Linked DNA regions of Homo sapiens: region 2 is linked to region 1. Evidence: fine-mapped expression QTL. Tissue or cell type: putamen. Region 1 holds a variant in brackets; the other region holds the start of a gene. All regions are shown on one strand. Distances are from middle to middle.

Evidence for each region. PIP is the estimated chance that this variant, and not a neighbour inherited with it, causes the effect.
Region 2: CD55 starts here. The variant in region 1 is fine-mapped to the expression of CD55 in putamen (GTEx, PIP above 0.99). The same link has a PIP of 0.9 or more in caudate, cerebral cortex and prefrontal cortex.

What each region holds. Positions count from the first base shown.
Region 1 is chr1:207,397,700-207,400,466 of GRCh38, reverse strand. No RefSeq gene overlaps it. Among named protein-coding and RNA genes, the nearest start is that of CR2, 55 kb to the left of the region's middle. The variant C/T (reference allele first, on the strand shown) is at 1,370.
Region 2 is chr1:207,320,085-207,322,717 of GRCh38, reverse strand. It overlaps CD55 (CD55 molecule (Cromer blood group)), which reads right to left and starts at 1,040. Exons shown (of 10, transcript NM_000574.5): 1 at 853-1,040; 2 at 151-336. The coding sequence starts at 952. It overlaps LOC107985251 (a long non-coding RNA gene), which reads left to right and starts at 589. Exons shown (of 3, transcript XR_007066838.1): 1 at 589-1,032. RefSeq lists a silencer at 765-844 and an enhancer at 1,405-1,614.

The DNA of each region.
Region 1 (2,767 bases):
ATATATCAATCTGGGAGGACCTTCAAAGATTTGGACAAAATCAAGATAACATTCCTAATGTTCTAAATGTGCTATCTATGAAACAAAACAAAACCAATGAAATAACAACAACAAAACTCTAGGTTAAGAGAAAGCAGAAGTACATGTCTTGCAATCACTGTGTTTGCAAAGATAACCATTATTTATTTAAGATAAAGAAATGAATATTCAGAGGATCAATTTTTCTCTACTTGAAAAATGTTGTCTTCTAAATAAAAATGCTGATTTATTCAATTGTGTGATAACATCATTGGTTACAGATAAAATTGCACTCTGACAAAAGGGAAAATAAAATACACACACATAGGTGTATAGGAAAATCTAAATTATTAATGAATATTTTTCTTTCTTATTATAAATGCTTTCTATTCTTTAGTAAGTTTTTGGATGAGGAAAGGGAAACCAACCATGACATAAAGGCTTCAGTATCACTGATGAATTACGAGGCAGAGAAAAATAATATATAAATTAACAACAACCGAGTAATAGTATAGAAAAGGAAAAGGAGAAAAACTAACACCTGAGGCATTAGATCTAAACTGTTTTCTGTCATCAAAAAATAATATTTAAACATAATATACACATAAAAGACAGTTCAAAGGTGCTTTACTTTTATTTGTGTATATTTAATTTAATAAACACATAGCTTACTACATGCCAGGAACTGTTCTAAGCATCCTACAGCTATTGACAGACAGCCTGGCTTGCAGACGGCCACCTTCTGGTTGTGTGCTCACATGGAGCGGGGAGAGAGAGAGAGAAAGCTCTTAGGTCTGTTTTTATAAGGACATTAATCCCATTAGGAGGACCTCACCCTCATGAACTCAGCTAAGCCTCATCACCTCACAAAGTCCCCACCTCCAAATACTATCACACTGAGGATTCAGGATTCAGCATATGAATTTTGGGGGGGCAGGATTCAGTCTATCCCAGCCATCTTACAAGTGATACTTTGACATATGATGAAATGACCCTACTCCATTTGGCAGCTCCTCCTGAATCCACCAAGTCCAATTATTTGGGGTATGGTTTTTATGAAATGGTATTTCTTTTTATTATGCTGTATTAAAGCAACTGAGATTCTTTTATTTTTTCCGTTAGATTTACTAGAGATTATTACATGTTTCCAGTTCAGGGCTCTAGGCTACCAACTGTTCATTCCCAACTCTGGGGCTTGCAAATATGTGTGGGCCTTTGTGACAGCCCTTGCCTGGTGTTCCAACTGTGATGCTACATCTGGCACCTGTGGACTATGACACATGAGGATGGGGAGGGTGGTAACAGATGTCCTTTATACTGTGTGCTCCTACTATGGCACCCAGGCCAGTCA[C/T]CTCCTCTTTCAGCCTCCCAGCCCCCACCCCCAACCCCACCCCCACCACTGGCTCCAGCCCATGTATCAGGCTGTTCTCTCCCCAGAGATTTCTAAAACACCAATGGGCCCCTCCTTTCAATGCCCTGCCTCCAATGCATATAGAAATGGGGCATTCTCCTGGGCTCATCTTAAGCCATGCTAGCAGATGGGTGGACATTTCTCGTGGGGATGGAGCTGCTCTATCACTCCTCATAAGATCTGACCTCCCACTGGGTACAAGGGGTAGAAAGCAGGGATGCAGGCCCCATGGAAAGAAATCCCATTTTAGCCATGTGTTGATTATGGCCTAAAGAGTTCAGATGAAGACATACTATAGATTCCAAATGGTAAATTTAACAAGACTAGAAGAGGAAATATTATTTAGATTTTTCCCGCTTGGATAATATTTGTAATTGTGGTTATCAATGAAGCACAGAAGCAACCTTTGAGTGTCATTGGAAGGAAGCCATTGTTCATGGGTGGTACAATAGATGATCAACACTGTGGGAAATGATATAATTAATAATGAATACATGGTATTAGGAAAACAGAAGGGCAAGAAAATCTCTATCCTTTCAACTTGTATAAACAGGTTCTAAAGGGCCATGCATTGTAATAGCAGTGTTGTCATTTTTGTCTGGTCGGAGAAGATATAAAATTAACCAAGAACAGCACATTGTGCACATTTGACAATAAAAAACACAGAGGATCTAGACTCCAAAAAGGAAGAGATGGTGCCTGGACACGATGAAGAATCTTCATGTAGAATGATTAGGCAATGAACAAATTAGTGTCTTTTGATACTCATTAAAAAATTTTTATTCATAAATGACTATACCTCACATGGGACCATGAGTTGTGTAATGCATTTTTAAATCAAATTGTTTTCATAGACAAAGAATATACACACACACACACACACACACACACACACACACATACCCAGTTTGCTGGGGCCTTGCATGCCCTAAGGATGGCCCTGTCTACAGAAAAGTCAGTGCTGCATCTCTACCCCACTAATGTTTGCTGGAGTAGAGAAGGGGAACCACAGCATCAAGCCTCTGTGGAGAGTCCTTTCATTGATCAGCCTGATTTCTGCTCCATTTCCCAGTCCCCTAATCCCTGCCTGCCATCTCTAGTATGGGAATCTCTGTAGTTTCCTCCAGGAAGAGTGGCTCCTCACCACTGTCTCTGTGCATGTTTGAGCTACAGCTCCCCCTAGTCTGCATCACTCCTAGTAGGCTTCCACAGGCATCCTCTCTTCCAAAACATCAACAAAAGCTGGCAGCTGCTGGCACCTCATTCAGGGTATACAGTAGGCTACGGTGTTTGTGTCAATTACCAAGCCATGGATAAAAACTGTGACACATTCCAGGG
Region 2 (2,633 bases), 78 kb after region 1:
ATTAGCTGGAGTGTGACGTGCCAACAGGGTATACCCTGGGGTTTAGTAACGCTAGAGAACTATCAATTACTAGTCACTCCAAAGGTATATAAAAATAAATTTAAGATACATTCCATTCCCAGAACTTTTCTAAAAAGATGAAGAACTTACGATTGCAGAACTCTTCAATATCTGACCATTGACTGCCCTTAAGGCAGATCACTGAGTCCTTCTCGCCAGGAATTTTCACAAAGCTTTCTTCACATTTGTACGTTATTACAGTATCCTCGGGAAAACTTGTACGGCCTTCCAAAGCTGGCTGGGCATTAGGTACATCTGGGGGAAGGCCACAGTCACCTAGGGAGACAAAAGCAGAACTGAAGGAAATGACTATCAAGTGTCCTCACAGTTGCTGTTTTCAAGACACAAGCCCCCTTGAAATGCCACACCTGAAAGAGATGACATGCAAGTTTGCAGCATCGTGTGCTCCACACGGCTGGACTCTGTCGAGAGTGGGGAACGGTCAGCGGTCTGGCCTCCCATCCTTTTAGACCAGCTTTTTGGGGGTTAAGGATACAGTCTCTTTGAGCCCTCCCTTTCGATTTTGCCAGGCTTGGCTGCTCCGCAAACCCAGCCGGGGCCTCTTTAACCCTCCACGCCGACCCCTAAAGCCAAGTCAGCTGGGGGCCGACACAGCAGGAGCCCCAAATGCTGGTGAGCGGCGAGAGCCTTAAAGGCACAGGACGGCGGGAACCACGACCGCGGGCCAAGCTCCCCACCTGCCAAGTCGCCGGCCCCTGTGCGTGTCTCAGAGACCGACTTGGACCTCCCACCCAGCCCAGGGGCTTCCCCGGCCGCCGGGCCCCTACTCACCCCACACGGCCGGCAGGCACAACAGCACCAGCAGCAGCAGCCGGGGCAGCTCCCCGAGGAGGGGCAGCGCCGCGGGCACGCTCGGCCGCGCGACGGTCATGGCGCGCCGGGTTAGAACAAGGACGCGCCGCCGGGACTCCGCCGAGTCGCAGCTACGCCCAGCGGCCGGAGCGAGTTGCAGTAAGCAGAAGCCTCGTGGCTCCGCAATACCAGTTAAATGAGTGCTTTGGGCGGGGTCTGGGCTGGGGCTCTGCGTCACCAAGGGTGGGACAAACAAGACGGGTGGAGTAGGGGTTTGTTGTGGTCAGAGGTGCGGTCAGAGGGCTCCGGCGTCATACGCCCCGGGGGCCCTAGACTCGGGGAGAGTGGGGAGGGGAAGGAGGAGGAGCTCGCTGGCAACACCCTCTGGGACTCACTCTCTCCACTGCTGGGTGGGGCCTGCGATGACCTGCCTTCTAGAAACCTAAATATCTCCTCGCTACGTAAACACAAACGGGGTGTAAACGGGAGAGGGGGAGGGGTGCTCAAGTATCGCAGGCCTTGCTGCCCGCACGTGAGTTCGTCTAAGCGGAGCATCCCCGCGCTTGAGTGCTGCCAAGGGGACCTGCAGGTGCGGTGGAGTTCGGGGGCTGAGACTCAGGCGCTGAGACGCGGTGCTCTACCCGCGTCTTGGGCCCTCTACTGGGAGGTCTGTCAAAGGCCAGCACGAGGGTGGGGAAATAACTAAGGAGGAAGGGCGTCATCTCCTAGAACACTCTCTAATGTGAAAACAGAGACCTGGGGAAACAGGTTGAATAACACAGTAGGGAGTGAACATTGTTCATGCCTTGTTCGGGTGGGAGTCATTTTCTTCACCCGGGTTCTCCTTATTTACGAAAGACACCACTTTGGGATTACTCCAGACTGACTGTAGAGAGAAATTCACCAGTGTGCGTGTGTGTATGTGTGTGTGTGTGTGTGTGTGTGTGTGTGCGCGCGCGCGCGCGCGCCTCGGGGCGGTGTGGGGTGGGATAACAATAAAAACAAACAGACCCCAAAACGCTGAATGGTGGTGGGGTGGATTTTAAGAGGAAGGCTTGTTACAAACCCTTTAGAATAAATAGCCTGAGGTTTGCAAGACTGGCCACACATTAGAATCACGTGGGGAGCTTATATATATATTTATATTTATATATTCATATATATTTATACATATATAAATATATATTCTTTAAGTTCTGGAATACATGTGCAGAACATGCAGGTTTGTTACATAGGTATACACGTGCCATGGTGGTTTGCTGCACCCATCAACCCAACATCTACATTAGGTATTTCTCCTAATGCTATCCCTCCCCTAACCCCCACCCTCCAACAGGCCCCCGTGTGTGATGTTCCCCTCCCTGTGTCTGTGTATTCTCATTGTTCAACTCCCACTTATGAGTAAGAACATGCAGTGTTTGGTTTTCTGGTCTTATGTTAGTTTGCTGAGGTTGATGGTTTCCAGCTTCATCCATGTCCCTGCATAGGACATGAACTCATCCTTTTTTATGGCTGTGTAGTATTCTATGGTGTATATGTGCCACATTTTCTTTATCCAGTCTATCATTGATGGGTATATGGGTTGGTTCCAATCCAGAGGCCCAAACTGCACCTTAGACAAATTAAATCAGCATCTTTGGGGATGGGACTGGGTATCAGGATTACTTAAAGTGCCACACTGTGCAGCCAGGTTTGAGAACCACAGACCTATATGGTACTGGTCAGAGTAAAGATCTATCCAGCTTAGGACCACCCCTGTC